Homo sapiens: one gene and its partners. The protein of the gene in region 1 purifies or fractionates together with the protein of each later gene. This does not show direct contact. Each region holds a gene or a part of one and is shown in the gene's direction. Other genes may lie near its edges.

Region 1 (4,797 bases):
AAGGCAACCTTCCTCTACATTATAATGAATAAATGTGCTTAAGGAGTAGTGAGAAAATGATAGGAATCTTTAGATAATTGCATTTTTTTCATTATAACAATAACTACAAATTATTTCCTTCCACTCTCAGATCTAACAACAATGACATATAAGCAACATCAGTTATAAGAATATTGACTTAGCAAATTGAGAGGATTTTTTCCCATGTGCTATTTTACTATGCCAGTGAAGTTTTTCTTTTTTTTTTTTAGAATTTTTTAATAATACTTTTAATTTAAATATATTTCAAACTCTCTGTTGGTTGTAAGTCTTTTTTTTATTATTATACTTTAAGTGCTAGGGTACATGTGCACAATGTGCAGGTTTGTTACATAGGTATACATGTGCCATGTTGGTTTGCTGCACCCATCAACTCGTCATTTACATTAGGTATTTCTCCTAATGCTATCCCTCCCCCAGCTCCCCACCCCGCAAGAGGCCCTTGCATGTGATGTTCCCCACCCTGTGTCCATGTGTTCTCATTGTTCACTTATGAGTGAGAACATGTGGTGTTTGGTTTTCTGTCCTTGTGACAGTTTGCTGAGAATGATGGTTTCCTGCTTCATCCATGTCCCTGCAAAGGACATGAGCTCATCCTTTTAATGGCTGCATAGTATTCCATGGTGTATATGTGCCACATTTTCTTAATCCAGTCTATCACTGGTGGACATTTGGGTTGGTTCCAAGTCTTTGCTATTGTGAATAGTGCCACAATAAACATACGTGTGCATGTGTCTTCATAGTAACATGATTTATGATCCTTTAGGTATATACCCAGTAATGGGATGGCTGGGTCAAATGGTATTTCTAGTTCTAGATCCTTGAGGAATCGCCACACTGTCTTCCACAATGGTTGAACTAATTTATGCTCCCACAAACAGTGTAAAAGCATTCCTATTTCTCCACGTCCTCTCCAGCATCTGTTGTTTCCTGACTTTTTAATGATCGCCATTCTAACTGGCTTGAGATGGTATCTCACTGTGGTTTTGATTTGCATTTCTCTGATGACCAGTGAGGATGAGCATTTTTTCATGTGTCTGTTGGCTAGATAGATGTCTTCTTTTGAGAAGTGTCTGTTCATAACCTTTGCCCACTTTTTGATGGGATTATTTGTTTTTCTCTTGTAAATTTGTTTAAGTTCTTTGTAGATTTTGGATATTAACCCTTTGTCAGATGGGTAGATTGCAAAAATTTTCTCGCATTCTGTAGGTTGCCTTTTCTTTTGCTGTGTGGAATCTCTTTAGTTTAATTAGATCCCATTTGTCTATTCTGGCTTTTGTTGCCATTGCTTTTGGTGTTTTAGTCATGAAGTCTTTGCCCATGCCTATGTCCTGAATGGTATTGCCTAGGTTTTCTTCTAGGATTTTTATGGTGTTAGGTCTTACATTAAAGTCATTAAGCCATCTTGAGTTAATTTTTGTATATGGTGTGAGGAAGGGATCCAGTTTCAGCTTTCTACATATGGCTAGCCAGTTTTCCCAGCACCATTTATTAAATAGGGAATCCTTTCCCCATTGCTTGTTTTTGTCAGGTTTGTTGAAGATCAGATGGTTGTAGATGTGTGTTGTTATATCTGAGGCCTCTGTTCTGTTCCATTGGTCTATATATCTGTTTTGGTACCAGAATCATGCTGTTTTGTTTACTGTAGCCTTGTAGAATAATTTGAAGTCAGATAGCATGATGCCTCCTGGTTTGTTCTTTTTGCTTAGGATTGTCTTGGCTCCACAGGCTCTTTTTTGGTTCCATATGAATTGTAAAGTAGTTTTTCCAATTCTGTGAAGAAAGTCAGTGGCAACTTGATGGGGATAGCATTGAATCTATAAATTACCTTGGGTGGTGTGGCCATTTTCACGATATTGATTCTTCTTATCCATGAGCATGGAATGTTCTTCCATTTGTTTGTGTCCTCTTTTATTTCATTGAGCAGTGGTTTGTAGTTCTGGTTAAAGAGGTCCTTCACATCCCTTGTAAATTGGATTCCTAGGTATTTTATTCTCTTTGTAGTAATTGTGAATGGGAGTTCACTCATGTTTTGACTTTCTGTTTGTCTATTATTGGTGTATAGGAATGCTTGTGATTTTTGCAGATTGATTTTGTATCCTGAGATTTTGCTGAAGTTGCTTATCAGCTTAAGGAGATTTTGGGCTAAAATGATTGGGTTTTCTAAATATACAATCATATCATCTGCAAACAGAGACAATTTGACTTCCTCTTTTTCTAATTGATTTATGTCATTCTCTTGCCTGATTGCTCTGGCCAGAACTTCCAACACTATTTTGAATAGGAGTGGTGAGAGAGGGCATCCCTGTCTTTCGCCGGTTTTCAAAGGGAATGCTTCCAGTTTTTGCCCGTTCAGTATGATATTGGCTGTGGGTTTGTCATAAATAGCTCTTATTATTTTGAGATACATTCCATCAATACCTAGTTTATTGAGAGTTTTTAGCATGAAGGGCTGTTGAATTTTGTCAAAGGCCTTTTCTGCATCTACTGAGATAATCATGTCCTTTTTGTTGTTGGTTCTGTTTATGTGATGGATTACATTTATTGATTTGTGTATGTTGAACCAACCTGGCCTCCCAGGGATGAAGCCAATCTGATCGTGGTGGATAAGCTTCTTGATGTGCTGCTGGATTCAGTTTGCTAGTATTTTACTGAGGATTTTCACATCAATGTTCATCAGGGATATTGGCATAAAATTCTCTTTTGTTGTTGTGTCTCTGCCAGGCTTTGGTATCAAGATGATGCTGGCCTCATAAAATGAGTTAGGGAGGATTCCCTCTTTTTCTATTGATTGGAAAAGTTTCAGAAGGAATGGTACCAGTTCCTCTTTGTACCTCTGGTAGAACTCGGCTGTGAATTTGTCTTGTCCTGGACTTTTTTTAGTTGGTAGGCTATTTATTATTGCCTCAATTTCAGAACCTGTTATTGGTCTATTCAGAGATTCAACTTCTTCCTGGTTTAGTCTTGGGAAGGTGTATGTGTCCAGGAATTTACCCATTTCTTCTAGATTTTCTACTTCATTTGCGTAGAGGTGTTTATAGTATTCTCTGATGGTAGTTTGTATTTCTGTGGGATTGGTGGTGATATCCCCTTTATCATTTTTTATTGCATCTGTTTGATTCTTCTCTCTTTTCTTCTTTATTAGTCTTGCTAGTGGTATATCAATTTTGTTGATCTTTTCAAAAAACCAGCTCCTGGATTCATTGATTTTGTGAAGGATTTTTTGTGTCTCTATCTCCTTCAATTCTGCTCTGATCTTAATTATTTCTTGTCTTCTGCTAGCTTTTGAATTTGTTTGCTCTTGTTTCTCTAGTTCTTTTAATTGTGATGTTAGCGTGTCAATTTTAGATCTTTCCTGCTTTCTCTTGTGGGCATTTAGTGCTATAAGTTTCCCTCTACACGCTGCTTTAAATGTATCCCAGAGATTCTGGTACAATGTGTCTTTGTTCTCATTGGTTTCAAAGAACATCTTTATTTCTGCCTTCATTTTGTTATTTACCCAGTAGTCACTCAGGAGCAGGTTGTTCAGTTTCCACGTAGTTGAGCAGTTTTGAGTGAATTTCTTAATCCTGAGTTCTAATTTGATTGCACTGTGGTTTTAGAGACGGTTTGTTATGATTTCTGCTCTTTTACATTTGCTGAGGAGTGTTTTACTTCTAACTATGTGGTCAATTTTAGAATAAGTGGGATGTGGTGCTGAGAAGATTTGGGGTATGCAGTTCTGTAGATGTCTATTATGTCCGCTTGGTCCAGAGCTGAGTTCAAGTCCTGGATATCCTTGTTAACTTTCTCTCTTATTGATCTGTCTAATATTGGCAGTGGGGTGTTAAAGTCTATCATTATTATTGTATGGGAGTCTATGTCTCTTTGTCGGTCTCTAAGGACTTGCTTTATGATTCTGGTTACTCCTGTATTGGGTGCCTATATATTTAGGATAGTTAGCTCTTCTTGTTGAATTGATCCGTTTACCATTATATAGTGGCCTTCTTTGTCTCTTTTGATCTTGTTGGTTTAAAATCTGTTTTATCAGAGACTAGGATTGCAATCCGTGCTTTTTTTTGTTTTCCATTTGCTTGGTAGATCTTCCTCCATCCCTTTATTTTGAGCCTATGTGTGTCTCTGCATGTGAGATGTGTCTCCTGAATACAGCACACTGATGGGTCTTGGCTCTTTATCCAATTTTCCAGTCTGTGTCTTTTAATAGGGACATTTAGCCTATTTACATTTAAGGTTAATATTGTTATCTTTGAATTTGACCCTATCATTATGTTAGCTGGTTATTTTGCCTGTTAATTCCACAGTTTCCTCATAGCGTTGATGGTCTTTACAATTTGGCATGTTTTTGCAGTGGCTGGTACCGGTTGTTCCTTTCCATGTTTAGTGCTTTCTTCAGGAGCTCTTGTAAGGTAGGCCTGGTGGTGACAAAATCTCTCAGCATTTGCTTGTCTGTAAAGGATTTTATTTCTCCTTCATTTATGAAGCATAATTTGGCTGGATATGAGATTCTGGGTTGAAAATTCTTTTCTTTAAGAATGTTGAATATCGGCCCCCACTCTCTTCTTGCTTGTAATGTTTCTGCCAAGAGATCCACTGTTAGTCTAATGGGCTTCCCTTTGTGGGTAACCCAACCTTTCTCTCTGGCTGCCCTTAACATTTTTTCCTTCATTTCAACCTTGTTGAATCTGATGATTATGTGTCTTGGGGTTGCTCTTCTTGAGGAGTATCTTTGTGGTGTTCTCTGTATTTCCTGAATTTGAA
Region 2 (4,797 bases), on another chromosome or scaffold:
ATATTTTGTGTGTGTGTGTGTGTGTGTGTAAGAGAGAGAGAGAGTGAGAGCAAGTTTACATTATGTTTTTTTTCTTTCGTCCTTCTGAACAGGATATATGTTTATTGTTCAAGAGTGACCACGACTTAGAAGTTTTCTTTCTGCGTGGTTCAATTGATGTCAAGACTTCATATCAGACATCACAGAAATGCATGGTATGTATATGTGTGTGACACACACATATACATACCATGCCTTGCATTTTTGTGACCAATTGCAGACTTACCACTGCATTGTAACTTTTTTTGTTTTCTCTATCAATTAACCAGAAGTTGTTTTTATTTATTGTTTAGTATTGCTACTTTCCTTCCTCTGAGGCAGCTCATCCTGGATACTATTTTGTTGTCTTTAGTTTATGTAAATATTTCAGAACTATTGGAATGACTCTTGGCTATGTCCTTAGCTAGTTTTAAGTTGCCTATTGTATGAACAGGGTGTATGTTTGAAAACTTTGAAGTAAAAACTTTGAAATAAAAGTAATAGAATGTAGAAAAACAATTTGGAGAATACAGAATTTTTGTTTTTCTTGTTTCTTGTCTGTGTGTTCAAAACCTTCGTTGTCTTGGATCACCTAGGTTCTTCTCACAATTTAAAGAGACTTTGATGAGTGTAGTCTAACATGTTTCAGGGAAATCTACAAATTGGGAACCTAGTCTAGAGGATACAACTAGAAGCTTAGAGTATTGGTTTCATTCTGGCTTTGCCACAAGTTGGTTGTCTAATTCTGGGCAGGTAGTTTTAACTCATGGCCTCTAGGTTTCAGCATAAAAGTGGAATCTGGAGTAATTGGTATCTGTGGTCCCTTTTAGCTTTAAAGTTGTCTGATTCTGTGGCTTGGCCCATTATTTTACCTGCAGGTTGGCCTATAATCTTTATCCTGGCTCTTGGGGCCAGGCATTAACCAAGCCCTTAACTTAATGCATTTAAATCATGATTGTCAGGGAATTCTGGGGAGCAGTTTTATCAAAAGGTCAGTGAACTGAGTTTTCAAAGAAGATATATTGAAGGCAGATGTTTATTTATTTGGAATGTTTTCACAAGATAGGAAGATGAGTATGGCGATGTTGCTTAGGTCTAGTTCATCCAGTTTTGAGACCTAACCTACATAGCCATGTGGGTTCTAAAGGTAGGATAATAATAAGGAACTTTATTAAGTGCAATTTGCATCTCCTGCAATATACTTCTGTTTGAAATCATGATGGGAACAAACAACAACAGAAGTAACCCCCCAAAGAATATCTTAACAGGAACTTCTAGAAACAATATTTTATTAGTTTGCCTCACAAAATTTGAAGACTAGGCACTGTTTTGAGTTTCTTGTTGACAGGTTTGGCTCCTTGGTTGATAATACATATATATTGTGTACATATGTATATATTGTCATAATACGTATACTCAGGGTTTTGTGTATTGCCATGATTTGGAAAACTTTTCTGGAATATGTTCAGAGCTTTATAATAGGTGGCTCTATATTTAGAACACAAACTAATGCACATTTTTGAGATGTGGCTGAGAGAAAAATATTTGTGCTGTCTGTCCTAATCTTCATTTCCTTGTAGTTGTAAAATGTTTCATTTGTTTTATTCCAGTATTATAAGTTGTGCCCATGCCTTGTCAAGACTATAAAATTTTTGATATCAGGGAGCCTTGTTTATCTTTGTATTCTTATCTTGCCACCCCCTTCATTGTCAACTTGTCTGCCAGATTGGTACCTTGCTCATAGTAAGTCAGTGTCTGTTGTATGTTGATCCGTTTGTCCTTTGACCATCCAGATCTCAACCTGACTGACTGTATGGGTGGTAGAGTAGCTTAAACAAAGGCATGCCACAAACAGCTAAATATGGATACAGAATCCAAGAGCATCAAATGCAGAACATTTTTCAGATATTTATAGCCTCAAAGCAAAGTCAATTGGCTGAAAAAGCTCAGCAGCATAGCGAAAGGAAACGGGAGTGGCAAAGCCAGCCTCACTGTCTGTGCTTTCTGGTAAACAATGAGAACATTAAAATTAAATACTTTACCATGAATGGATGGGGAGTGTAGGACACTCTGGGAGAAATTTAAGATCCCAATCTCTAGGATTGCCTGCGGTGGAGCTCTGCACTCATCAGTATGACAGGTCTGCAAGTATGTGCTCAGATATGCTCTTGGAGAGTTAGAAGGGAAATATAATCAGCACAAGAAAGGGATCAACAAGAAATCTTGTACTTTTAAATTTTAATATTATCAGAAGGAATTAGGTAAAATATTCTGTTAAGAAAATGAATAGCATCAACATTATTACCATTAAGCTTGTATACAGCTCATTGTTTATTGATAACAACATAGGGACCTGCTGGAAAATTTCAAAGGGCTAGTACTATTTAAGCAAACAGAAGAAAAAGGGAATTAATCATACTTCATTAAGTACCTTATAATTCCAGAAATGTGGCAGTGGGAATTCGGTAAGAATTAATAGAAGTTCATATTCAAGAAGTGAATATGAGCTGATGAGACAGAAGTCATATCTGGTTGTATTATATGATACTGCTTACGCCTCACCAATTAAGACACAGGATGAGATTTTTAAAAGTTACGTTTCTAGAGGTTATGTCTCTAAATTTATTTAAAATGTTGCAACTAGTATGGCTAGAAGAAAATCAGTGAGTGTGTATAAAATACATCCCCAAACATGTTCATGTTCCTTAAATGTCTTAATTTCCTCAGGTACTGTTAATTGAATCTTTACACCTGAGTAGTCATATTTTAGAAATTTTTGGAATCTTAAGCTTGAGTTCAATACTTAGGATGTGGCATAGGCTTGTTGATGTATTAGTTTCCAATGATTTCCAAATACATTAAAACACATTAAGAATAGACAGTTTTTCATTGAAATCAGAGAGAACTTCTAAGAATGCCTAGGCATGTACTGTTTAAGTGACTTTAAATAGCCCCCTTTTTTCTTCTTTTGAGAGAAAATTTGTATGTCTTATTTAAATTGTGTGCTCTATTAATGTAGGTGATAGTTTCATTTATAACATCTTAGTATTGTTCTACCCTCTATCATGTTGGTTCACTGCTATTTGATTTTCAAACAGTGAAAATATTTTTAAGGAATAGAATTATACATCCACAATCTCTTTTCCAAAACCATTTGGACTAGACAGTTATGTTAATATTTCTGCAGTTAAACAAGTGAATAGGCCGGGCGTGGTGGCTCACGCCTGTAATCCCAGCACTTTGGGAGGCCGAGGCAGGTGGATCACTTGAGGTCAGGAGTTCAAGACCAGCCTGGCCAACATGGTGAAACCCCGTTTCTACTAAAGTACAAAGAAATTAGCCGGGTGTGGTGGCATGCACCTGTAATCCCAGCTACTTGGGAGGCTGAGGCAGGAGAATCGCTTGAACCAGGGAGGGGGAGATTGCAGTGAGCTGTGATTCCACCGTTGCACTGCAGCCTGGGTGACAGAGTGAGACTATCTCAAAAAAAAAACAAAATCATACCAAGTGGTATAAAGACTATAAATAGCCTTATGTCAGTGCAGGTCAGACTTTACTGCCAGAAAAGTTGCATACAGTCTTTTGCTTTTCAGAGCTTTTTTGATTTAGGAATTGCAGATATGGAATTGAGGATCTGTACAAATCTTCAGACATAAATAATACAAAGTTCTAGAACACCCCTCTTTAAGAATAGTTTGTGTGGATATCCTTTATCTTTTTCAGATAATAACATTTACTGAACACATTTTTAAAAATGGGCCGGGCGCGGTGGCTTATGCCCATAATTCCAGCACTTTAGGAGGCCAAGGTGGGCGGATCACCTGAGGTAAGGAGTTTGAGACCAGCCTGGCCAACATGGTGAAACCTTGTCTCTACTATAAATACAAAAAAAAAAAAAAATTAGCAGGGCATGGTGGCACATCTGTAATCCCAGCTACTCGGGATGCTGAGGCACGAGAATCGCTTGAGCCCAGGAGGGAGAGGTTGCAGCTAGCTGAGATCGTGCCACTGCACTCCAGCCTGGGCAACAGAGCGAGACTCAGTCTCAAATAAAAAAAAAAAAAAAAAGTTGTACAGTTGTGTTTCCTACTATAGTGAGTGAAATTTCTGTGGTTTGCTAAGAAAAAGAAAAGAGATTCACATGACATAGTAGGCTTTACCAAGATTATTAAGGAAATGGTGGCAAGGTAGTGGTTTCGGATCCTTTGTTTCATTAGAAGGAAGGATGAGGTAAGTTGAAATAGAGGGTTTATGTAATTGTTCTTTGCAGTTGCTTTCTTCAGTAGCACAAAGTGATTTGATCACCTTTTAAGTAGGTGAACCACAAAAAAGCATTCAACTAATGACAGTTAATTCAGAAAAACTTCAGCTGTTTGCTCCCTTGTCCCTCCCTATTGGAAAAACTTTTAACTAACTAGAGAGTTGTTTGGTCTTGTTAACCAGGAGGAGGAGTTTGAAGTGTGCTAAGGGCACTGCTAAAATTGCTTCACCCTATCTTGGTAGAGGGATAATTGCTGTCTGATGTTTGTAAAAACACCTTTCTTCCCAAAGGCTGTCAAGTACTTCTTAAGGCTAGCATGTAGAAAACCCTTTTGCAAATTTCATGTAGTTTATTTTATAGTGAGAGGGCAGCCCATCAAGAAGTAATGTGGTTCACAAGTAGAAGGGAAAAGAGAAGTCTTGAGGCCCAGTGCAGTGGTGTTAGTGAGTATACAGTAAACAAAAGAAATAAAAATTGAACCCTTAAAGGCATAAAAACATTTCATTTGCTAGACTATG
Region 3 (5,435 bases), on another chromosome or scaffold:
CTCACAAGGCTAGGTCATAAAAGGTGATGCACCTTTCTCCTTGTGAGCTGTATATGTTCACACTGGAGCCTTAAGGCTGCCATACTGGGAGGAAGCCTAAACTGGGCCACAGAGAAAGGCCATATGGAGAAGCCCTGAGTCTACCTGAAAAGTGGGATGCCCAGCTAACCATCCACTCCTCCAGCTCCTGTCACCATCCAACTGCAATCACATGAGAGACCTCAAGCCTTTGGCTTCCCTAAATTTCTAACCCACAGAGATTGTGAGAGAAAATAAAATGATTGCTGTTGTCTTAAACCATTAACTTTTGGTATCATTTATTCTGTATTAATAGATAACCAGAACACCTACCTTTAGGTGCTCAAGATAAAGCATTAAACAGATTTACTTTCATAGGGTTTCCATTCTAGATCTTTCTCATCTTTGGCAAGTGAAGAACAATTGTTTTTGGGTTGTAATTATCTATCAGATAGCTGTCTGGACCTGCTATCAAGTCTAAATTTGTAGATACACCTATCAAAGAGATCACATTCACTTATTTATACATTTACTTATTTATTTTACAATTTTTTGTAGAGATGGGGGGGGTCTCGCTGTGTTGCCCAAGATGGTCTTGAACTCTTGACCCCAAGCAATCCTCTCACCTGGCCTCCAAAAGTTATGGATTACAGGTGTGAGCCACCATGCTCCATTTATGAATTTAATACATTAATTGCTTTCTTAATATAGATGGGACACCTCTGACCCCTCCTGAGTGAAAAATCCATGTTCCCAAGCACCCAGGCCTTCTATCCTATCACAAGGCATGGTTATCGCTTGTTTGCTTCCATCTCACCTAATACCACCAGCAGCTAAATTCATTCTGTTATTCATCTTTGTATTCTTACCATCTAGGCTAGTGCCTGCACATAGCAGACCTATTTAAAAAACAAACCAACCCAAACAAACATGAAGCCCCCACGTAGCTGAAGGAGGGCTGCTGGTTCCTAGACATAGAGATAATTTATTCAAGGACAGTCCCTATCCTCCAGGAGTTAACAATTCAGCACTAGACACCCTGTGGGACCCAGCCTGACAAGTGCAACGAGTGAGATGCCAGAATTGAGTCCTGCGGTCGAACAGAGGGACTACAGGGCAACGCACTGGGCGTGGGAGGTGGAGATGGCTCTGGGAAAGGATCCATTCATTTATTCTACATTTATCAATCACCGTAGCACACACAGCACATAGTAAGTGCTCAATATCTGTTATTAAATGCCAGCCACTGTGCTAGGTGCCAGGATGCAACAGCGGACAAGAAAATTGCAGGGGCACTTGCCCTCGTGGGGCTTACCGTGTAGCGAAGGATGACAGGCAGTAGACTGTCATCTTATTATGTAAAATTGTGCTAGATGCAGAGCAGGAAAATAACAGGCGGCTGAAATTCTAGTAATGATGTGAGCTCCTTCGGCTGAGGGGAACCGTGGGCGGGTTCTGAGCAGGAGTGGCCGTGAGGGGGACGGACCGTAGGGGGCGGGAAGACTGCAGGCAAGAGCTGGTAATTTTAAGATGCAAATAACATTTTTCTGCCTGACTGGAAGAGGAGCGTTTGGTCGCTCGGGATTCTCCCGGAGCAGGGGGCTGTATTTTGAGTGTAAAATCGGTTGCCCCGCAGTGCAGGGCAGGCGGTGGTGAACTGCAGCCCTAGTCCCCAGGTTTTTCATGCTTGGCACATCGAGGCTCTTCGGCCCCCAGGACCAGCAGACTCGCCATGCGTGGCTCGGATTCGGGCTGGAGCAGGCGGGCAAGGTAGCGGGGGCGGGTGCACAGCAACGCTCACCCCTAGGTTTCGGGGTCTGCAACGCTGGGAGGGCAAGAGGAGGCGGAGTTTGCGCTGCGGACCTAGGCGTTGGCGAGGGCCACGCCCCCAGCCGCAGACCCTGCCTCCAGGCCCCTTTGATTGGATCAAGACCGCGGAAGGGCCGGGCGTCCTCGGGCGGCCTGAGGGTCGGGCAGGGGAGGGTGCGCTGATTGGCCCGGCGGGGATTAAGTCATCGCTAGCAGGTTCGAGCGGCCCAGACACCGGCGGGGCGGCCGAGGCTGCTGTGAGAGGGCGCTCGAGGCTGCCGAGAGCTAGCTAGCGAAGGAGGCGGGGAGGCGGCGTCTGCACTCGCTCGCCCGCTCGCTCGCTTCCCGGCGCCGCTGCGGGTCCGCGCTGCGTTTCCTGCTCGCGATCCGCTCCGTTGCCCGCGCCCGGAACAGCAGCACCTCGGCCGGGTCCGAGCTCGGTTCGGGAGTCTTGCGCGCCGGCGGACACCGCGCGCGGAGTGAGCCAGCGCCACACCTGTGGAGCCGGCGGCCGTCGGGGGAGCCGGCCGGGGTCCCGCCGCGTGAGTGCTCTGGGCGGCGGGCGGCCCGGGCCCCGGCGGAGGCGCGCCCCCCGGCTGGGCGCCGCGCGCACCATGGGGCTCCCAGCGCTCGAGTTCAGCGACTGCTGCCTCGATAGTCCGCACTTCCGAGAGACGCTCAAGTCGCACGAAGCAGAGCTGGACAAGACCAACAAATTCATCAAGGAGCTCATCAAGGACGGGAAGTCACTCATAAGCGCGCTCAAGAGTGAGTGTCCCGAGCCCCTCGGGGACGCGGCTCCGGGGCGGGAGGAACTGGGAGGTGGCGCTTAGCCCGGGTTGCCCGCGCGTCTGCCGGGTTTCTGCTCCCGGTACACTGGGGGACGGGTGTCGACGCCTCCGAGGCAGGAAGGATACGTAAAGCGGGCGAACCAGCAACCATCAGATGAAGAGAGAGACCCGTCGCTCCGCCTTTTGCGTTCAGGGATGGTCGGGAGGTGACCCAGCGCGGGTGGTGCTCTGGGGCAGCGCGGGTGGGCGTGGGCGTGCGCGGCACGCAGGTGTCCCAGCAGTGGGGCCAGAGTGCCGAGCGCGCCGCAGCCAGCGGGCAGATCCCATCGTGTCCACAGCTCCAGCTCCCTTAGGGGCAGAGTTGCTCAGCCTTGAGTGCCCAACCGTGAGAATGGAGCGTGCCCTGCCGAGGGGGCGCTGCCTCCCCTTGGGAAAAGGTGGGTTGTGACTGCTTCGCTCCCTGTACGCAGCTCCAGCCTAGTCAGGCCGCCGGGTTCCCTGGGTGGAATGCTTGGTTAGCTTGCGATTCCTTGGAGTATTGGCAGCCAGTAATCTCTAAATCTGGAATCAGTACGTGCGCAGGTTCTGATTCTTGTGTTTAGCAGAAGGTGATAGGGGTGGGAGTAGAGAATCAGAGTGTTCCTTTACTCTAAACTGTGGGCGAGGGTTTAAAAATAGAATGTACATATCCCAACTCTCTCCCTCTCCTGCTCCCAAGCTCTCCTTTTTACCTCTTCCGTTATCCTTGTAAAGGTCTGAGAAGGAATATCCATAATTCTCAGAAAGAAGTTCAAACGTATTTCAAAGATTCTTGGACCTTTTGTAAAACCATTTTTGCGTTTTTTCCTTTTGGTACAAGGGGAGAGATGCAATTTTGCATTCTGCTTCACTTTTGCAGAGCCAGAGAGTTTCTTTTTCTGGCCAAATAAGCGTGCTCTAGGGATGAGTGCTTTGGATTGTGAGAACGTTTTTGGTGCCTTTTCAGTCTCCCCATTTAAAAATAGCTCAGTCCATCTTTTAGTTTTAAGAATCAGGAACCACATGAAGGCAGATAGTGGAATTGTCTCTGACTCTGTTACTGTATCTGTTTCTGTGATGGATTTCTTAGTAGGTGATACCTTTCAGCTAAGAAATCTTGCCTTAGCAGAGTAGAGTCGTAGCTGTGGGAATTGTTCCCAGGCCTCTTTAAAGGGCACTTACAAAAGTCAGGTGCCTGAGATGTCATTTTGTCAGCTTGTTGCTTCTAAAAATGAAGAGAGAGACAATGGAATGCCAGGGCAGCCCAAAGTGCCAATCTTTTGGGATGAAATGAACACAGGACTGTGATGTGATGAGGCTTCTTAGAGGCAGATTCTTAGGCTGTGCCTTACCTGAAACATATGAACAGACCCTTCCTTTGTCAATAATCAAGGCCATTCTTGGTTTAGGGGATGGGGGTCCCTGGTTTGGAGTAAGTTAGGGGCCCACTTACAGGTTGGGCCCAGGAATTTTGATTGAACCTCAGGCTGGCTTTAGTGAGTTCTCTGCTTCACTCAGCAAACTTTTGGTGTGATTGTGGTGTACTGGGTACTGCACTGGGCACTAAGGGTGTAGGAGTGAATATTTTGCTGCTCCTGTGCTTACAGAGGTGTACTTCATTCCAGGCACTGCTTCACATATAATTATCTCATGTGCTTAGATTCATTCTGCAAATGAGAAAACAGAGACTGGGGGAAGCATTACCTCTGAGTCACACAGCTCTAGCAGCAGGACCAGAGCTTTTGAATCCACCTGGTTTGAGCCAGAGATGGAGTCCCTGCCAGTGCAGAGCTCTTGACTTCTGCCCCATCTCACTTGCCCGGAATGGAACCTCTTGCACCAAGCCCTAGAATTTGGACTTGTGTTTTCTATTTTGGCATTGAATCTGAGGAGGGTGCGTTTGGGTGACTGGCAGTTTTCCTACCACTAGTTTTTGGGGGCAAGAATTCTTTGGTAGGAAGAAACATTGCAGTGATAGAGTTGAAGTGTTATTTAAGCTGTCTAATGGAATGGATCAGCCCTGTAATCTGGAGGAAAGACTGATGGGGATCTCGGTGTTCTGTTCTCTCTACGTCCAGCTCTGCTAATGTATTCTACCACTACTAACTACTACTTGATCAGGTCAGGTGACCTCTAAAAATAGAGGGTGGAGTCAACCATTGTGTCCTGGATTTCAGACATTCCGATATCATGAGATGCTTGCTGCGTGGTATACTACTATATTAATGTTTGTGTATTATTTTTCTTCAGTCATGTTTATTATATCTATAAACAGAAGTGTTTTCCCAGTACAACTTAAACATAAATACATAATTATATAAACACTGGGTTTAGATAATCTATGTTCTCTTATAGCTCTAAACTTTTGTGGCTTTATTTTATAGCCATATTTTATTTTATTTTACAGTTATTTTATAACTAGTATTTCTAGCTCTTTGGATTTAACTTGGTTTTGAGTGTTAATCATAGGCAATAAAACTGTCCTCTAGGGATTGCCAAAGTTCAGGTAGATCATTGTTACTATTACTTCCACTTTATGAATGAGATGCTGGCAATGGAGATGCAAATTCTTTATAGATCTAGATCCCGTAAAGGAGAAACATGCAGCAGGTGCTTGATTAAGTGAAAACATTGCCAGTTGTTTTTTAGACTCCGAGCCCTGGGTAGCAAAGACCAGCTAAGATTTTGTATTATCCTCTGAAGTTTTGGAGTTCTTTCTCCATCACGGGCTTTGAAGGCTAGAGGGACAGATGAGAGTGGCTGAATATGTCTTGGCTTTGTAAAGCAGCAGAGTTTCTT
Region 4 (3,995 bases), on another chromosome or scaffold:
TGCTCCTCTCTGGCTTCTGCCCTGCAAATCCCACACCTCTTGACCTTCCTGACCTGCCTGTCTCCTCAACTCAGTGAGGCTGCTGACTCCGCCTTCCCTCTGCTTCCAGGCCGTTCACTGGGCTCTCCTTGTTGGTTTCTGTTCTCCTAGAAATTATTGTACTGCATTGCCTGTATTGTGTCCATTTTTCTGGTTTGTTTGTTTGGTTGGTTTTTAATAAAGAGATGGGGTCTCGCCATGTTACCCAGGCTGGTCTTGAACTCCTAGTCTCAAGTGATCCTCCCTCCCTGGCCTCCCAAAGTGCTGAGATTATAGGCGTGAGCCAATGTGCCCGGCCCTATTTGTTTTTAAGACAAGAGAGTAAATACAATCTCCTTCCAATCTAATTTTCCTTAATAAAACAAATACCCTCCTGCCACCCCACCCCCAGCACAAGCTTTCCTCAGAGTGATACCTTCCTGTACTGGGGAACCTGCCCCGGAGGGTCCCCCCCGCCACCACCGCTCCTCCCAGTTAGTGCTCCCTGAACTGCTGCCCTGCTGCCCCCATTACAGTCCCGTGCAGAACCGGCCCCGGCACAGTGGCTCCCTGTGTGTCTTCTGTGAGTGGGCTAAGTGCTTGCCCAGTGTGCGGTGGCTGCTCTAGGCTGGAGGAATCAAGAGGGCAGGGATGGAGAGAAGCCTTGGGAGTGGAGGGCTCATCTAAGAGTGTGTGGAGCAAGGAGAAGGGAGGCTGAGGCCAAAGCCCTGTGGACCCCCATGTCCAGAGGCAGACAGGACAAGGCATCTAGGAGACAGGCAGACCCAGAGAGTGTGGGGTCTCAAAGCCAAAGGAGAGTGGGAAGGTGGGAGTGCCCAGCAGTGAGAGTGTCTCAGGAACCAGCCAGGTGGGGCCAGGAGGGCTCCCAGGCAGGGAGCAGCAGGACGGAGCCGGCCTCCTGCCCACTGAGCTTCCGCGGGTGGTATGTCCCCCAGCTACTGCTCATTGTTCTGCCTGCACACCTGTCCTTCAGATGTCTCCTACTGATGTGCGACCTCCCAGCCCACCCTCCAGGGAACGTCACTGCTTCCTGCTCTTTGTTCCAGGGACCTGAGCTTTCCACTAGCGCAGCTGCTCCGTGCAGGGTGTAGTTAGTTACTCGTGCCTCCTGCCTTGTGAACTCCTTGAGGGAAAGGACTAGAGTTCATTCATCTTGGCACCTCGCGTACAACTTTGTGAAGATGGCGGGGGCAGGGTGGAAAAAGTTCTAGAGCCTTTCAGGGCCTTCGTCTTTCCACCACCTGCCTAGCTCTAGGGGTTTGAAGATCTAATGCCCATTTCCACCCATCTTGGCTCCTGGAAGAACATCGGGAAAGGGGCAGCCCGGGGGCCTCTGGGGCTTTAGGAGCAGCGAGTGTGGGATGTGGAGGTGAGGAAGGAGGCCCAGCAGTGTCAGTTGCTGGGAGTCGGCTGGAGGGCCTCTGCCCCAGGCAAGTATGGGAGGCAAGTCTCTGACCCAAGGAGGGGCTCTCCTAGTGTGTCCCTGCTGTGTGCGGGGGTGATGGGCTTGTTCTCACACCCTCCCCACCTCTGCTGCCTCCAGGGCCAGTCTGACTGTCTCTGTCTCTGGCTATAGGTTGATGTCCGTGGAGGAAGAACTGAAGAAGGACCACGCAGAGATGCAAGCGGCTGTGGACTCCAAACAGAAGATCATTGATGCCCAGGTGGGGGCTCCGGCCCTTTGGTCAGCCACAAGAGTTAAAGGGCCTGGGATTAGGAGGGGTGACTAGCCTCTCCATCCTCAGTCATACCTCACTGCAGACACTGAGGGGAATAAGAAACCAGAATCTGCCCTGAGAAGTCAGACCTGTGGTCTTAGTGGGCCACAAGCTCACTAGGACAGGCTGTGAAAGGAGAGAGGCAGCTCCTCCCCTGCCAGGGCTCTTGGCGGGCATTGTCTTTCACCAGGACTGCTGACCAAAGAGTGGAAGCCACCAGGAGGGCAGTGGGGGTAGGAGTGAAGGCAGGCTGGTCAGAGGGAGCAGTGGGGCTCTCGTTCACAACTATGGCATCCGGGCTGCATTGAGGGGAGACGTGAAAGGCTCTGTGGCCCCAGCCTCCTTTACTCAGGGCTGCACCGCTTTCCTTTCACTCACCCAGGAGTAGGCTGGGCCTTGCTCAGGCTGTAAACTGCACAGACCAGGAGCTGTGACCTCTGGTGTGTCATGCACACACATGTGAGCAAGGGTGCCTGCCCTAGGGGCCGCAGGCAGCCCATAGACAGCACTAGAGCTGCTGCATTTGGGCTGATAAGCAGGCAGCGAGGCTGTGTCCATGATGCTGCAGAGGCCTCTGCCTACCTTCTCTTGCCAGCTGCTCACAGCCCGGAGCCTGCCTGCCACCCTCATCTCCAGGCCACCCCCTTCCCCGATGCTTGTCGTAGGTATACACAGCCCTAAGGAGCCTGTCCCATGACCCCCGCTCACATCCCCATTGTCCACAGGAGAAGCGCATTGCCTCGTTGGATGCCGCCAATGCCCGCCTCATGAGTGCCCTGACCCAGCTGAAAGAGAGGTACAGCATGCAAGCCCGTAACGGCATCTCCCCCACCAACCCCACCAAATTGCAGATTACTGAGAACGGCGAGTTCAGAAACAGCAGCAATTGTTAACCTGCCTGAGGAGGGAGGAAGCTACCCAAGGAGAGGGGGACTATGGTGGCCAAGGGCAGGGTCTCGGCCTGGGGAGGCACCCACGGTTGCAGCCCCAGCGCGGGTGTCAGGAGGCCGAGCCTCCCCTCCCTGCCGCTGTCCAGGAGGCGGCCGCAGAGGGAGCCACCAGAGACTGAAGCAGCGTGAGGCGAGGTCACCAGCCGCTCCCTGTGGGGTGCGGGCAGAAGAGACTGCACGCTGGGGAGTGGGGACAGCCTGATGGGGCAGGGGGCCTGCCAAAAATATGTCTGTTGGTTCCTGAATGTGGTGTGTCCTTGTCCTCCTGGATCTGGCCGAGTGCATGTGTCCCCCCACACCTGTGCCAGGGAGGGGGCTTCCTGGAGGGGGGATTCAAGGGCTAGGGGCCTACACCTGTGGCTTCCCCTCGCCTCCTTGGGGGGCCCGGGACTCCCTGGCAGCCAGGCCCTGTCATGTGGGACCTGGCACTTGGCAGATCAGTTGGCAGGCAGGAAGATAGGAGGACACAGAGCAGGAGGTCAGTGTCCCCTGCCTGTCTCCATCCGAAGCACCTGCCACTGCATGCAGCCTGTTGGGACCTTCCTGGCTGTGAGGAACTGAGGATTCCTACCCACCCACCCCCTCTGAACCTGTCCCCAGAGCACCACCTGCTACCTTCTTCCCTGCCTTAGTTGTATTGCCAGATAGACCCAGTGAGGGCCATGGCTTTTTCTTGTGAGCTCTTGTCCCTGTGGGGAGGACCCACAGCTTCCCACACCTCCCACACAGGCCCAGGCTGATGCTCTAGGGCTCCCAGAAGCCAGAGATCTGGGCGGATCTGGCCAGATGGCTCTGAGCACTGTATCTGCCTTCTCCTGGGGCCCAGCACACCCAGGGCACAGTGGTCCTGTAGGGAGTGCCACCTGGTGCTCACCCTGAAAGAAAAGGTGATCCTTCCTCTGAGTGATGGTTTAAAAAAAGATTCTAACGCCTGCAGGCCCTGAGAAGGTGGATAACTGTGATTTTTTTTCCTTTCACAGTATGCATTAGAAACAAAAGCCCGCTTGCTCGCTTGCTGGAACACAGGGGCCTTTTAAGTTGAGCGTGCGCACTGCATGGGAAATAGCGGCCCTGGAGGATGTTAGACTTGCTCCCTCTCCAAGACAGCAGCAGCCTGCACCTGCCCCGTGTGTGTGGCCGGCCTCCTCCTCACCCTTCCCGGCCCCCGGCCAAGGACCCAGGCGCTGCATACAGGGGAGGGGCGCACCCCACAGCTGGGGCCGGTTTTCCTCAGCTCTAGGCTGTTCTGTAGCTTATCTGCCCCTCCCCCACTTTCAAGACAGATGAG
Region 5 (4,797 bases), on another chromosome or scaffold:
AAAAAAACAACTTGGGCTGGGGAATCTGATGATTGTGGGGTCAGCGTTAACTTTTGGCCTCAGTTTTAACCTTGGGGGACTGTTTTCATTGTTTGTACCTCTGCGTTAGATTTATCTTTGTCCCTGGCCTTCTAATAATAGGTAATCATTTGAATTCAATAAGATCTGATCCAGCGTCAGGAATTCCAAAGGCCAGAGAGACAACTCAACTATTTCTTTTGCTTTTTCTTTTGAGACAGAGTCTCATTCTGTCACTCAGGCTGGAGTGCAGTGGCAGGATCTCGGCTCACTGCAAGCTTTGCCTCCAGGGTTCAAGAGATTCTCATGCCCCAGCCTCCAGAGTAGTTGGTATTACAGGTGTGCGCCACAACGCCAAGCTAATTTTTTGTATTTTTGGTAGTGATGGGATTTCGCTGTGTTGGCCAGGCTGGTCTTGAACCCCTGGCCTCAAGTGATCTGCCCACCCCAGCCTCCCAAAGTGCTGGGATTACAGTCATGAGCCGCCATGCCTGGCCTAACTTAACTATTTCTGATCTTATATGTAAGTGGACCCATTGGCTTCCCAAATGGAATAAAATTAAGGTGTCATCATTTTATGCGTAGATGCTGCAGCAGAACCCAAGGGGCTCAGATGAGAATGTGCAAACGTGTGAGGTCAAAAAGCTGCTATTGACAAAGCAGAGGAGTTATTATTATATAAATAGCCTTCAGCCCGCATCTCTGGATTTATGGTACTGGTCATTTTAGTATTAGCCAAGAAAGCTACTCCACTGGGAAACCATTCAATGAAGGAGGGAAGAATAACGCCTCCCACACCCAAAGGTGTTTCCTAACTCGGAACAGAAACACATTTCACACATTTTTAACTTTTAATTTTGAAATCATTTCAGATTTCCAGGAAAGTTGCAAAAATATCATAAAGAAATATCTACCCTTCACTCAGATTCCCAAATGTTAGCACTTCGCCACATCTGCCTCATTCTTCTTTCTCTCTCTTCACACACACACACACACACGCGTGCACACACACAGATACATGCACGTACACATACATGCACACAAATACGTGCACACACACTGTCTCTCATTTTTTCTGAACCATTTAAGTTGCAGACATTATATCCCTTTACCCCTAAATACTTCAATGCATATTTCCTAAAAACAAGGCTATTCTGTTTAATAACTACAGTATAATTATCAGACCTAGAAAATTAACACTGATGCCTTGTTAGCACTATTACCTTATCTGCAGGCTGTATTCGATGCCCCACTAATGTCCTTTATAGCAAATGAAGAATTTTTTAGTCCAGAATCTGATCCAAGATCACATACTATATTTAGGTGGATCTATTTCCTCAGAAAACATTCTTTTTTTTTTTTTTTTTTTGAGATGGAGTATCACTCTGTCACCCAGGTTGGAGTGCAGTGGCACAATCTTGGCTCACTGCAACCTCTGCCTCTTGGGTTCAAACAATTCTCCTGCCTCAGCCTCCCCAGTAGCTGGGACTACAAGCGTGCACCACCATGCCCAGCTAATTTTTTTGTATTTTTAGTAGAGATGGGGTTTCACTATGTTGATCAGGCTGGTCTCCAACTCTTGACCTCAAATGATCTGCCTGCCTCAGCCTCCCAAAGTGCTGGGATTACAGATGTGAGCTACCACGCCTGGCCCTCAGAAAATATTCTAAGAGATGTTGAATGCTCATTATTAGAAAATCCTTCCTTTAAGATAACATCTTTGCTCTCCTGTTAATTGGATGACCAGTTGAAGGACTAGGTCAAAAGAATGTCTTCTAGCATATTTGCCTGTACTTACAGGGATAGGGCATGAAAGTAATTAAAACAAATATATTTCATTGTATTGATTATATGCAAGTTAGACATCATTGGGGAAGATTCGGTCTTCCTGGCTTTTCAGAGAAAAATGTTAACATGTGAGTTATGGCGCTGCTTGGTGTTGTCTGTTGGTTGGATGTTAAGGTGTACAATTTGTGTGCCTGCAACCAATGCATAGAGTTGCAGATGTCCATTGTAAGAAAGCAGATGTTGCATTTCTTCTTTCTTCAGACAATAGTCATAGTAGCTACACTTTCTTTGGCAGATGTGGTGCTGGAAAAAGCCATGCACAAGTGCATCTTGAAGCCCCTCAAGGGGCACGTGGAGGCCATGCTGAAGGACTTTCACATGGCCGATGGCTCATGGAAGCAACTCAAGGAGAACCTGCAGCTTGTGCGGCAGAGGAATCCGCAGGAGCTGGGGGTCTTCGCCCCGACCCCTGATTTTGTGGATGTGGAGAAAATCAAAGTCAAGTTCATGACCATGCAGAAGATGTATTCGCCGGAAAAGAAGGTCATGCTGCTGCTGCGGGTCTGCAAGCTCATTTACACGGTCATGGAGAACAACTCAGGTGAGGCCGCTGGAAGCCCAGGCTTCGTGCCGCTTCCCTTCCGGGCCGGGGACAGGCCTCTCTCCTGTCAGGCTTTCTGATTCCCAATTTCTCCTCCCTTTGGTCTCTTGATTTCACCAAGTGGCTTACAGAACTACAAGTGATTCTCTGATATCCGGCACATTAGTCACATGCAACAGATTAAAATGTAAGCAGATGAGGGCAACAAGATTTTTGTACCAGGCCGATTTAATTAAAGATTTAGTTCAGAGTATGGTTACAAATTCAGTCTCTGGAGTCTGAGTTCAAATCTTCCCTCCGAGAAGAAGAAAATTAACTGAGGGACTTTGGCCCCCTTAATCAACCTTGCACGCTGTAGTTTTCTGCGTCTTTAGCCGGATGTCACCCTTTCTTTCATGAGGTGGGGATTAGCTGAGACAGCCCACACATAGCCCCAAGTGCAATGGAAATGTCAGCGATTATCATTACAACATTTTGGCCAATGAGGGTTTGTGTCAATGACCTATAGTATGTGAAAGAAACTCTGAACATTCAGTTATAATGAGGCCTCATTAGAGCCGCTTCATTGGCTAGCCCTTCTTTGCTACAAGCTGAAGCAATATAATTGAAATTCACCGAAGAGTTACAATCTTGGAAAGCCAGCCCTCAGATTTAGCCTTGTTGTTTCCTGTAGATGCAGGGGTAACCATGAATCCTGGATAGTAATGGAGCCCTGCATTGTCCCAGGTCTTCAGTAAGCTTATTGTAATTCTGAAGACGATTACGAACTTTTCTTCTGAGTGAAATTGCTTAATGGAGAAGCAGCAGAGAGAAAACACAGGCTGTATTAACCACTGCTTGAGTAGACAGGAATGTGTGTGCACTTTGGGAATTGTTGAGTGAAGAAGTTAAAATATGAGCTCCTGGGCGTGGTAATGATAGCAAGTGAACATCACCTCACAAGTTTGCAAGCATATTTCACATATAGGAAACATATTTTCTATAGTTCACAGTTATTTATAAAAATTCCCCAAATAATATCTGAATATCTGAATTCCCCAAATAATTCAGAAGGATTATGCTCTTCTGAAGCACAGTTCCTCAACACACACACTAAAGACATTAATGTAGACAGGATAATTCTTCTTTTGGGGGCTGCCCTGCTTCCTGTAGGAAGTTTAGCAGCATTCCAGATGTCATCTGCATCCCCACCCTCCAGTTATGTCAATGAAAAATGTCTTCAGACAGTGCCAAATGTCCCCTGGGGGACAAAATTATCTCCAGTTGAGAACCACTGATGTAAAGAAAACTAGAAGTAAACACTAACATTTTTTGCCATATATTTCCATTAATCAATGTGTATATTCAACATGTACTGAATTGGCACGTTTAAAGAAATTAACTGTGTGCTCACATTAAATACAGAGCAAAGTTAGCTTATTCCTGGTTTGAGTTTGACCTTGTCATTATGTTTGTAAATAATGTGCACAGCAAGAAAGAGGAAGTAAGACACAAAGAATTAGCATAAGTAAATATTTTGTAAGCATTTTATAATCTTGTTTGCTGAAAGTTAAAATATTTTAACGAGTATTCTGTTCTATCACATAATTTTATACAAATTATAAAAGTAGGGAGAAAATCTGTAATGTGTTCATTGGTTCATAGACATTCATTCTGAAACTGTAAGGGCTGGTCTCTAACATTAGCAGCTGGGAGGGTCAGAGGCTACATAGGATTCCAGAAACACTCACCTCTGTTTATAAATAGCACAGTTCCCCCCAGAGTGACTCCTTGCTGTCTAATAAAAGCAGCAAGAAGGATGTGAAAGAAAGAAAAGTTGGTAAAAATATTCCATCTCCTTCTCTTCCTGCTCTCAGGGAGGATGTATGGCGCTGATGACTTCTTGCCAGTCCTGACCTATGTCATAGCCCAGTGTGACATGCTTGAATTGGACACTGAAATCGAGTACATGATGGAGCTCCTAGACCCATCGCTGTTACATGGAGAAGGTAACTGCTTTTGAGAAAAGTTGAAGGAACTGGGTGCTATTTTTTTCATTTTTTTATAATTGAGACGAAATTCATGTCACATAACATTAATCATTTTACAGTGAATAATTCAGTGGCATTTAGTATATTCACAATGTCATGCATTCTCCACCTTTATTTAGTGTCAAACTATTTTCCTCACCCTAAAATAAAATTCTGCACCCATGAAGCAGTTACTTGGGTGCTTTTTTGACATCTTAAGTGTTAACTGAATTTTTTATTAATTTAAAAGAGTGTACTAACCTTTTTCTGATTGCAAAAGTAATACACACTCGTGGTAGAAAATTTGGAAAAGTCAGGAAAAACACAAAGAAAAAATATAACCCCATCTTAACTATACTTCACTAAGATTGCTTAATGGCA

What was found.
Region 2: the proteins of ANKS1B (region 1) and RASAL2 purify together in Homo sapiens (affinity purification with mass spectrometry; one large-scale study listed by BioGRID and IntAct). This does not show direct contact.
Region 3: the proteins of ANKS1B (region 1) and ARHGAP26 purify together in Homo sapiens (affinity purification with mass spectrometry; one large-scale study listed by BioGRID and IntAct). This does not show direct contact.
Region 4: the proteins of ANKS1B (region 1) and DAB2IP purify together in Homo sapiens (affinity purification with mass spectrometry; one large-scale study listed by BioGRID and IntAct). This does not show direct contact.
Region 5: the proteins of ANKS1B (region 1) and RIN2 purify together in Homo sapiens (affinity purification with mass spectrometry; one large-scale study listed by BioGRID and IntAct). This does not show direct contact.

The regions. Positions count from the first base shown.
Region 1 is NC_000012.12:99,239,543-99,244,339, reverse strand, and holds part of ANKS1B (ankyrin repeat and sterile alpha motif domain-containing protein 1B), read left to right. Parts: intron 1-4,797. UniProt on the Homo sapiens protein: Isoform 2 may participate in the regulation of nucleoplasmic coilin protein interactions in neuronal and transformed cells. Isoform 3 can regulate global protein synthesis by altering nucleolar numbers.
Region 2 is NC_000001.11:178,096,459-178,101,255, forward strand, and holds part of RASAL2 (ras GTPase-activating protein nGAP), read left to right. Parts: intron 1-4,797. UniProt on the Homo sapiens protein: Inhibitory regulator of the Ras-cyclic AMP pathway.
Region 3 is NC_000005.10:142,768,321-142,773,755, forward strand, and holds the start of ARHGAP26 (rho GTPase-activating protein 26), read left to right. Parts: upstream 1-2,056; 5' UTR 2,057-2,441; coding exon 2,442-2,595; intron 2,596-2,906; exon of another isoform or gene 2,907-3,009; coding exon of another isoform or gene 3,010-3,055; intron 3,056-5,435. UniProt on the Homo sapiens protein: GTPase-activating protein for RHOA and CDC42. Facilitates mitochondrial quality control by promoting Parkin-mediated recruitment of autophagosomes to damaged mitochondria.
Region 4 is NC_000009.12:121,779,849-121,783,843, forward strand, and holds part of DAB2IP (disabled homolog 2-interacting protein), read left to right. Parts: intron 1-1,615; coding exon 1,616-1,703; intron 1,704-2,482; coding exon 2,483-2,650; 3' UTR 2,651-3,687; coding exon of another isoform or gene 3,688-3,697; 3' UTR 3,698-3,995. UniProt on the Homo sapiens protein: Functions as a scaffold protein implicated in the regulation of a large spectrum of both general and specialized signaling pathways.
Region 5 is NC_000020.11:19,987,905-19,992,701, forward strand, and holds part of RIN2 (ras and Rab interactor 2), read left to right. Parts: intron 1-2,101; coding exon 2,102-2,407; intron 2,408-4,263; coding exon 4,264-4,395; intron 4,396-4,797. UniProt on the Homo sapiens protein: Ras effector protein. May function as an upstream activator and/or downstream effector for RAB5B in endocytic pathway. May function as a guanine nucleotide exchange (GEF) of RAB5B, required for activating the RAB5 proteins by exchanging bound GDP for free GTP.